Linked DNA regions of Homo sapiens: region 2 is linked to region 1. Evidence: fine-mapped expression QTL. A gene starts in region 1. The other region holds a variant in brackets. All regions are shown on one strand. Distances are from middle to middle. Region 1 holds the start of NRF1 (nuclear respiratory factor 1). Region 2 overlaps NRF1 (nuclear respiratory factor 1).

The links. PIP is the estimated chance that this variant, and not a neighbour inherited with it, causes the effect.
Region 2: its variant is the best candidate, but not a certain one, in a credible set for the expression of NRF1 in whole blood (TOPMed, PIP 0.51).

The regions. Positions count from the first base shown.
Region 1 is chr7:129,608,696-129,614,067 of GRCh38, forward strand. NRF1 (nuclear respiratory factor 1) reads left to right here and starts at 3,025. Exons shown (of 11, transcript NM_005011.5): 1 at 3,025-3,129. RefSeq lists enhancers at 2,443-2,492, 4,173-4,312 and a silencer at 2,883-3,872.
Region 2 is chr7:129,753,672-129,759,043 of GRCh38, forward strand. It overlaps NRF1 (nuclear respiratory factor 1), which reads left to right. Exons shown (of 11, transcript NM_005011.5): 11 at 1,347-3,405. The coding sequence ends at 1,510. It also overlaps the pseudogene RNA5SP244. Among named protein-coding and RNA genes, the nearest start is that of MIR182, 14 kb to the right of the region's middle. The variant T/C (reference allele first, on the strand shown) is at 2,831.

The sequences.
Region 1 (5,372 bases):
GTCTTGACTCTTAGCCAAAAATCTCCAGCCAAAACACAGCCTCCCCTGTTCTCCTGCAAAGGTAAGCCCAGTCCGTTTGGGGCAGTAACCTCAGTTTGCTCAGAATGGTAAATGTCATTTAATCCTAAGAAGGTTCTGCATTAAAGATGAGGATAGTAAAATAAATCAGATCTGCAGTATTCATACTTTTGTGTTAACCTTGGTAATATTTTGTTTAATTTTGTATTTTCAATGTTTGTAAGATTTAGTATTTATCATATTAGAGAATCTGACAAGTTTCACGAAACAAGAGCCTTACTAAGTTTGATGTTCTCTGCCATTTTCTATTTCTTTAATGAAATGTTGGTAATGACCCACTAAGTTACTTATGTGTTTCATCAGTGGGTACTGGCCTGAGACCCTGATAATGGTTAAAAGTACAACTCTGAGGTCAGGCTGATGACTTTCAGATCTAGCTTATTGTCTGGGTTTGGGCAAGTAACCCCTATATGTCCTTGTTTCTTCATCTGTAAAATGGGATAATATTAGTAACTACCCAGGCCGGGCACAGTTGCACACCTGTAATCCCTGCACTTTAGGAGGCTAAGGTAGAACGGCTTGAGCCCAGGAGTTGGAGACCAGCCTGGGCAACAGGCATCTGCCTGTGGTCCCAGCTACTCAGGAGGCTGAGATGGGAGGATTGCTTGAGCCCAGGATGAGACTGCAGTGAGCTGTGTTTGCGCCACTGTATTCCAGTCTGGGAGATACAGTGAGACCCTGTCTCAAAAGTTAAAAAAAAGGTAGTACCTACCTTGTGGGCTCTACTTGATAATTAAATGAGAAAGAAGATAATGTGCATAAAGGCTTCCACTAGGGCCTGACGCATCGTGAGCGCTCAATAAACGTGGGGAGTACTGGGTGTGATGACAAAGGGTCTAATGCACCCAATCTTGGGAGATGAAAAAATGCTGCCTGGAGGCGATGGTATTAATGTTGGGATCTGAAAGAATGGTAAGAATTATTCAGGTGAGGATTCAAGTAAGTGCATAGATGGTGTAGAGAGAAATGAAGTTATGGGCAAAGGGAACAGCCCTTGCAACAGTTGTGAGGTGGCACAATTTCCAGGCTTAAATGACCTGAGAGCTTCCCAGTTTTGAGTGTAGCCTGAGAAATATCTGTGGCAGATGAGGTCAGAGATGGCAACAGGGATGAGATCACCAATGGCCCTGTAGCCACCTCAAAGAATTTTAGACTTTATCCTACGTGTTAATCAGATCTTTTTAAGAGTCTTAAACAGGGAAAAAACATGATTTTCTTTCTTGAAAGACCATTCAAGCTGTAGTGGATTTGGAGAGGGCAATTTCGGTGGCAGGGAGACCAAGAGGAGTCTACCGCAGTGTCTCTAGGAGAGATGACAGTAGCCTGAACCAGAGTAAGAACTGACAGGGAACAACAGTTTTAAAAATCTAATTGGGGCTGGGTGCAGTGGCTCACGGCTGTAATCCCAGCACTTTGGGAGGTTAAGGCAGGCAGATCACTTGAGCCTAGGAGTTCGAGACCAGCCCGGGCCAACAAGATGAAACCTCATCTCTACTAAAAATACAAAAATTAGCCGGGCGTGGTGGTGGGGACCTGTAGTCCCAGCTACTGGGGAGGCTGAGGTGGGAGGATCCTTGAGCCCAGAGAGGTCGAGGCTGCAGTGAACAATGATTGCACCACTGCCCTCCAGCCTAGGTAATAGAGTGAGAATCTGTCTCACAAACAAACACATCTAATTTAACATGGGGACTCCAGAGACAGAGGAAAGAGTAATGGATCATTTCCAGGTTTCTGGCTTGAGCACTTGGGTGGCTAGTGTTGGCACTCTCCTAGAAAACACTGGAGAAAAAGACATTCAATTTTTGGATATGTTGAATTTTGAGGTTAATAGAATCTTGAAAATTAAAGCTTCCTGATTTTGTTAATCCGTTTTCTGACACCCTTTAGCAATTCTTCAATGCAATGCTTTTCACATTATTATATGCATAAGAATCACCAGGGGTGTGGAGATGGGGATGTGAAAATGCAGGTTCCTAGGCAAACAAGCCAAGATTCTGGATACCAACTGGGTCCCAGGACTCAAAACAATCAGCCTGAGTAATTCTGATGGAGGGAGTCTCCTGACGACACTAAAAAAACAACAAAAACGACCCCTCTGCCGGGCATGGTGTCCTGTAATACCAGCACTTTGGGAGGCTGAGTCGGGAGGATCGCTTGGGCCCAGGAGTTCGAGACCAGCCTAGGCAACATAGGGTGACCACCCACCCCCGTTTCTAAAAGTAAAAAAAGACCCCTCGTGTGTCTCCACCGTTAGGTTGTTTTCCCACTGTCCACCCCTCCCTACTTCTCAGGCACCTGCTTGGGGGCCCCTATTGCTTCGAATAAGCTCCGTGGGAGCCAGGACTTTGTCTTGCTAACAGGTGCATCTTCAGCGCACTCAGAACAATATCTGGCACAGCACGAGACACCTAGAAATGTTCGCCGAACGATCGAATGGCTGAATACATTCATATGTTGCTTTGTACAAAAACTTGCTTTCAAATATCTGGGAAGAGTTAGAGATAGGAAAGCAGAGGTCATTTCAAAGAGAGAGAGTGAGGATACCACCGGGAAGGCAGCGCCGAAAAAACCAGAGGGGAACCACTTGCCGATCCCCCAGGCACAGTCTGGAGGTCCCAATTCCCGCGGTAGGGGGGCGAGAGATGCCACTCGTCTGATCAGCAACCATTTTGGGCCCGCTTGCGCCGCTTCTCCGGGGCGTCCGCGTTGTGCTCATCCAGTTGCTTTTGAGGTTCCGGCCCCCTCCAAACCTCTGAAGCGCTCCGTGCACGCGACGCGGCGGCGGGGTAAGCTGGAGCCCTCGCCGCGAGCCCTCTCCGCTGCCTGCCCGCAGCACAGCCGCGCCGACCTCCTCATCATGGCGGCGGCCGGGCGGGGAAGCCGGGCCGTGCGTCGCGTGCGTGCCCTCTCCCTCCCCTCCCCCTCCTCGGCGGCGGCGGCGGCGGCAGAAGCGGCAGCGCTCGCCATTGCCGCTGGTGGCAGGAGGCTGCGAGGAGCCGGCGCGGTCGCAGTCTCCACGGCGCAGGCCCACGGTAGCGCAGCCGCTCTGAGGTGAGTGCCCTACCGCGCAATCTCCAGCTATTTCAGCCCCGGCGCAGCCGCAACACGCCGCCCGCCCGCCGGCCGGCCGGCCCGCCCCGCAGCCGGCACCCTGCCGCCCCCGGCTCTGGGCCTGGGCCCCCGCCGGATTCGGCCCGCCTCGGGCGGGGGGCCCCGGCCCGGCCCAGCCAAACCGCCACCCCGAGGATGCGCAGGCCGCACTAGGCCCCAGGCGTCCTGGCGGGCTCGGGAGGGAGGCGCTGCCCTCCCGAGAGCCCCAGGGTTCCGGCCTCCTCCGCCGCCTGGGGCTCTCGGGGCCGCGGCCTTCTCCCCGCCGTGGAACCCGGGGCCCGGCCTTCCCGCAGCTCGGGAGCGGGAGGCGCGGGAGAGTGCGCCGGGCCCGGGAGCGGGAGGTGGGCGGGCTGCGCGGGACCGGAGCCGCGGCTCTCGGCTCGCCCCCTCGGCCCTTCCCGGCTCTCGTACGCGGGCGGGCGGGCGGGCGGCGCGGTGGGGCCGGGCTGGGGCGCGGGAGCCGCTGTCTCCTGCGGGAGAGGAGGCTGGCTCTTTGGGCGACCTCCGAAGCTTCCCTCCTGCCGGGGTGGCGTGGGCTTGTTACCCAGGTAGACTGGGGGACGCTGGAATATGGCGCGTTGCCCACCTTCTTGCAAGTTAGGAGGTGGCCGGGGCGGCAGTTCGAGGAGGAGGGCGCAAAGTCCTTTTGTACGCAGAAATAAGGAGCGACATTGTGTTTTCTTCCCCAGCTGAGATGTGCCCGCGGAGGGGCCGCGGTTCTTCCTGTGCCTGGGGTGGTGGTCCCCTGGGTGAGGGAGAGGGGGAGTGGCACGCCCCTCCGAAGGAACAGAACCTTTTGCCACTGGAAAGACAGGGGCTCTGAGATGGCCGTGTGCATGGTATTTTCCCATATCCCCAGACCTTTTCGGGTTTGTCATTGAATGTTGTGCACTCCATCGTGCAATGATGTCTGCTGCCTCTCTCACCTGTTGTGTCGTGGCTGCTGGTCCCAAAGTTTCTGCAGTGTATTTGGCTGTGCCCACCAGAACTTGAAGTTGTTTAAAAATCTTAATACTTGGGGGGCTTCCAGTGATATCTGCTCCAACCAGTTGGAGGAGCTGTTGCCTGCTCTCCATTCTTCTTAAGCATTAGATTAGAATATATTAATTGCTTATTTTAGAGCTGGTGTCAATCGTGCTGATTTCTTTATGTGGTCAGAGCAAAATTCACATTTTTTTAAGTGTTCAGAGACTGCGTATTGAGAGACGCATAAGGAGAAAGGTAGTGTGAGTGAGCCTGTCAGCTTGGGCAGTGTTGGGCAGAGCTTTTGTCCCGGGACATCATCTGTGCTCACAGTGATCCTTTTTCCCATTCCATCTCAGCCTAGCCTTTTAAAAAATTATTTTTCCTTTGGGCTTGACCAGTAAGTAATTGGGAAAGGGGGGTGCTGGAGTCTTGGAGATGCTGTTTGTGTGTGTGTGTGTGTTTGATTCATTAGTATCCCGACTCCCTAAAATTGTATTTGACAGTTCTTGACAGGTTACCCCGTAAGACAGTGAAAATATGACTAGTTCTCTCCGTGCATCTGAGTGTAATTTCCTTATTTTATGAGTCCGAAAGCAGACATAATTATCACATGCAATGTAGAATATTTATTCTTAACTTGGATCCTAAATTGTGGGCAGAATTTTTTTGTGTCAAGGGGTTTTTTTTTCTTTTGATAGGACTTAGTGGCTTTCAACAGGGCCCATGACCAAAAAAAACAATAATCAGATTAAGAAAACTCTTTACGGCCGGGTGCGGTGGCTCACACCTGTAATCCCAGCACTTTGGGAGGCCGAGGCGGGGTGGATCACCTGAGGTCAGGAGTTCGAGACCAGCCTGGCCAACATGGTGAAAGCCCATCTCTGTTAAAAATACAAAAATTAGCTGGGCGTGGTGGCAGGCGCCAGTAATCCCAGCTGCTGGGAGGGGCGGGGGCGGGGGCTGCCGAGGCAAGAGAATCGCTTGAACCTGGGAGGCAGAAGTTGCAGTGAGCCGAGATGGAGATCGCGCCATTGCACTCCAGCCCGGGGGACAAGAGCGAGACTTCATCTAAAAAAACAAAAACAAAAACTCTACTTAATCTTTTGGCCCATCCTTATTTGAAGTCCTTTAATTTCCTCACACAGCCTCAAACTCGACATATAGGAGGGAAAATGACTTTTTGCTTAGTAGTCAGTGGTCATAGTCTCCTGTAACAA
Region 2 (5,372 bases), 140 kb after region 1:
TTAAGCCATCCTTTCTACTCTGAAATAATAGTGATATTAGGGAGTAGCTGGGGTCTTTTTTTTTTAAGTTGACCCCAAAATGTGTTTTTACATTTTACTGGTGTGTGAAATCTAGAAATCAGGAAACAAGTGACCTAGGCTTTAAAAATAAATAAATAAATAAAATAAGCTTGACTATGAAGGAAGGCACATAGACGGAGCAGTGGCCAGAAGACAGGATAGGAGAGGGACAAGATTTTTCTTTTCAAGCTGAGAGAGACTTAAGCATAGGCAGAAAGAGGGTTGAAGAAGGCAGTGTAGCCAAATATCAAAGAAAAATAATGGTGGCCTGTTCTGAGAGGGAGAAGACAGGCCGGGGACATTCACACCTGACGGGCCTGTGCTTCCTAGATGCGGAGGCAGGCAGGGCCCTCTCACGGCAAGCTGGGAAGGCCCTACCCTAAGGCATGTTTCCACAATTTCTCTAAACTTTTCTTTTCTGATAGTCTGTTTTAAAAAAATCAAAATGGTCAGGGTTGGTGGTTCACGCCTGTAATCCCAGCTATTCAGGAGGCCAAGGTGGGAGGATCACTTGAGGCCACGAGTTCAAGACCAGCCTGGGCAACACAGCAAGACTCCATCTCAAAAAAAAAAAAAATTATATTAGCCAGGCATGGTGGCACACGCCTGTGGTTCCAGCTACTCAGGAGACCGAGGTGAGAGGATCACTTGAATCCAGGAGTTCGAGGTTGCAGTGAGCTGTGGTCACGCCACTGCACTCCAGCCTAGGCTACAGAGCCAGACCCTGTCTCTTAAAAAAAAAAAAAAAAAAAGTTAAAATGGAAAAAAGTTGATTTCCTAGAAGTAGAGAGTAGAATAATAGTTACCAGAGTCTGGGGAAGGGTTGGGGAGGGGGGCAGGAGAGGTTGGCCAGCAGGTGCAAAGGAAGAATAAGTTCTGGTGTTCAGTTACACAGTAGGGTGACTGTAGCGAATAACAATGTAGTCTGTGTTTCAAGATAGCTAGATTTTGAATGTTGTCACCACAATGAATGATAAATCTTTAAAGAGATTAATATGGTAATTTTCTTGATTTGATCATTCTACAGTGTATACATGCATTGAAACATCACATTGTACCCCATAAACATGAACAGTTACTATATATCAATTATAAATCTTAAAAATTAATGAAAAAAATTTTAATGGGGTGGGAAAGAGATGTCTTTGTGCCTGGGCCATGGGTATGTGATCACCTGAGGCTGGTGACCACGATACCTCAAAGGCAAGACTTGGGTGCCCCCGTCCAGCCAGCATCTGGGAACTTGAGCCTGAGCCCCACCAACGGTCTTCTCTTTGTCTCTCCAGGCCTGGTCCAGATCCCTGTGAGCATGTACCAGACTGTGGTGACCAGCCTCGCCCAGGGCAACGGACCAGTGCAGGTGGCCATGGCCCCTGTGACCACCAGGATATCAGACAGCGCAGTCACCATGGACGGCCAAGCTGTGGAGGTGGTGACATTGGAACAGTGACATACAGCCATATTATGGCATCGTTTTCTAGTCTACTTCAAAATTTTTTACACGTTTGCAGAGGTGCAATCAAATGGAATTAAGTCTCTCGACTTTGGAAGGAAAGTTTTGTTAACCTTTTTTTTTTTAAAAGGAAGAAAGCGGATTTTGGAATTGCATTTTTTAAAGCACCACTCTTGATTTTCTGGGATTGGTGAAGAAACTGCATTGTCAATTTCACTGTCCCAAAAAAGCCAAATTGTGGCAGGACTTCTTTCTGCGGAAATGTGTGTGTATACTTATGTGTGTGTATGTGTGAGTGTGAATATATGTATATGTGTACATATGGACATACACATTTACATATATATAAAGTATATATATACATATATATATATATATATGTATGAAACCCGCATGGAATTATCTGTATGAAATCAAGGTGCGCTGTGGAAACAATAATTCACCCAGTTTAGTGGGTGGTAGGGTACGTGGCCAGACACAGTCACCCAGTTTTTGTTCATACCAGGGTCATGCGTTGAGCTACTGACAAACTCAGGCGGAGGTGACCATGCCCTTCACCAAAGCTGCCTCCCAGTGGCCACACAGAACTCTCCCTGCTGGACTCACCTGAGGAAAGAGGCTCCAGCATGGGGTGGGTCAGAGATGTGCTTGCAAGGTCCAGGGACTGCGTGGTCTGCCAGCTGAGATGCTCCTCGGGCTGGCCCAGGTGCTGACCTTGCCACAGGCAGATGAATGTCTTGAAAGCTCCCGGGCCTCAGCCTCCCATCTCCTCTCCTTCCCAGGAATCCTTGATCTCATGACTATTAAAATGTTGCTCTGGTTTTAAGGTCAGTCCTGAATTGCTCGTATATATGAACTGAAGGTAACCGAAGTATTAGGGGTTTGAGGAGTGCGTGCGTGTAAGTGTGCTTGTGTGTGTGCGTGCATGGTGGGGGAGAGGATGGGAAGGGGGCGGGGGCAGTGGAAGGGAAAGGAAGGAAAGAAAAATCGTCCTAGACCAGGATACACCCGTGGGAGCAATTTTCTCTACTGTCTGTAGCTTCACAGAGGAGGCGCTGGAATGAACAAGAAGAGACATCTGGTCTGTGGCCACAGCACCCTGAACGCCCCTGATCTTGTGTGATCTTGGAAGCTAAGCTTGGTTGGGCCCGGTCAGTACGCGGAAGGGAAGAAGGGACACCTGGCCATAGAAAACAGCTGAGGGTGTTTGCTGTGTTCCTGGATCAGGCCCTGCTTCAGAAGGGACTCCTGGAGGCCCATGTTCCTTGATGCAACCTCGTGGCCCAGGCCGGGAGCAGCTTGCCTCCTCAGAGGTGT[T/C]GACTATCTGGGTGTTCTTGGTAACCGTTAACTCTGTCTTTCTCAGCTGCAAGCCCTGAGTCTCCAGTAGCTGAATTCACCTGACTTTTCAACAGGCCAAATCTCTGAACCTTGAGTACAGGGACAGCTCCTCCTCCCTCCTCCCAGCTCTCCCCATGTGTGTGATGGTGTATTTAATGTGTTTTTTTAATGCGACATTAAAAGATTCTCCACGTCTTGCTCAACCTTTGAGAGAAGTTTCAGATTCTTGTATTTGCTTGTTTTATATAAAACTATCTAATGTTCTTTATATGTTCTTTTCTGTACGTAATGGGGGGAGGGGAGGGAAATTTACATATAAATAGTCCTAGTTCTACAATTTGTTATTTTTTTAATTATTATTTTTTATCGTCATTGTGAAGTTGTCCAGGGACTTTAAAGTCCATGTTCCTTTGTGGTGAAATAACCTCCAAATAGTTTGAGAAGTTGCCAAGACGAAGAAAAAAGCAAAACCCCAGTAGCAGAGCATGGATTCTGTGTTGTTTCCCATTCTGTCTTTGACTGCCTCATTCAATAAATAGTTAAAAATGTGGCAACAGGAAGTGGAATTGTTCATCTCTATAGGAGCTCTTGGCTTCTTAGGCAAAAGGAACTCTATCTTGGGGCAGCTCGTTCTGCGTTTAAAATGCAGTCCTACTCGAGATCAGCGGTCTCCGACCTGTGCCACTCCGACGCTGGGGACCTCCGTAAAGAAGACACTGAAGATTGCCCAGAGCCCCCTGCGAGCCCCATCACCAGACCTGCTCCATTTCATACATTTCATATATAACGTGTTTTCTTATACTGACGTTCTGGGGAAAAAATCGTATTTAAAAAATCCTAGGCCGGGCACAGTGGCTCCCGCCTGTAATCCCAGCACTTTGGGAGGCCAAGGTGAGTGGATCACTTGAGGTCAGGAGTTCCAGACCAGCCTGGCCAACATGGTGAAACCTTGTCTCTACTAAAAATAGAAAAATTAGCTGGGCATGGTGGCGGGCGCCTGTAATCCCAGCTATTCAGGAGGCTGAGGCAGGAGAATCGCTTGAACCCAGGAGGCGGAAGTTGCAGTGAGCTGAGATCACACCACTGCACTCCAACCTGGGCAACAGAGCGAGACTCCATCTCAAAAAAAAAATAAAAATAAAAAATGAGGGTGAGTGATGGTGCCTCTCCATCTTGGGAATTACTATTAAAGTGAATTGTCTTTCTTTCTCCAAGCAGAAGCCTCAAGCCATGACTTGTTCCCCTGCATCCTCACTCCCTGGTTTCTCACACAGCTTACTCTCTTAACATGGCATATGCCATCGCTCCAGCTGTTCCTCCTGCCCCATCCTTAGGCCCTTCATAGACCCCAGTAGCCTGCACCTCCATGCTTCTGCATGCCCTGGCCTCAGCCTGGAATGACCTGCTGTCACCCCCACCACCCTTTCTTTATATTGTTGGGTGTCTTGGCCACTTTCCTGGTGACCATGATTAGAATGCTTGCTTGGATGGGAAGGCCAAGAAGCCTTTTCCTTGATGCCTGATGGTGGTTCAGTGAAGCCAAGTGCCTACCTTTCCCCCTTCTTGCACAAATGGCATACCCTCGCCTATTTTTCACCAGAGACTGGACTAGAAAAAGGATTGAGTGCAGCCAAATCAACCACACATCCGTGCTATTGACTACCATGAAATAGCTGGGTTGTTTAGAATACCTGCTGACCAAGGGTCTCTCCAGAGGCGTCTTCTAGCTGCTGTTTGCCTGGCAAGCCTCAGATGCTGCCTTTGCCACAGGCATGTATTGACAACTGGTTTTGGTGGGGCCGATGGAGACCTCTTCCATTCCTGCCTAAGTCACCAACAGGAGCTGCTAACTCCGCTGTCTATAGAGACCAGGGAGGTCAAATCAATGAAGGAAGCTGAGGCAATTCCCATGTGAGAGGAGGGAGTGATGGGGACAGGCACAGTGGACAGCATCCATCTAAACGGGGCAGCCTGTCCTAGGTGCTGATTGTCACCATGCAGGAAGATGGACCCTAATGCCCCAACTTCAAAATTGTCCAGAGAATCTGGGGAATCCAGATTTTTGTACGAGATGTGATCGCAACAAATAAAAAATTTACATACTCTGCAAGCAAAATAAAACCCATCTGTAGACCAGACCTGACCTGACGGTCAGTTGCACTTAACTACGTGAATGCTTGTCATGTGCCAGGTGAATGAAGCATGGTAGTTGCCTGTGAGAAACAAGGAGTGAGGAGGAGACCTTTACATAAACCAACCGCTGCAGTCCAAGGTGATGAGGCACCATCTGGACAGAGCACTAGTGCAGAATGAGCTGTTTACCGCATTTGAGCCCTCAAAGGTCCTCTGTTACGTAGTTTATCATCTAGGCTCCACACAAGGATCTGGTGCTCACAGAAACCAGGAGACTGGTCTAAAAGTTACTGGCTTTAAGTCTTGCATCTGAGAAGGCCCACTGGTGATACAGGTGACTACTGGCATTCTCCAAACTTGAACAAATTAGCTGAGGAGAACCAGAAGG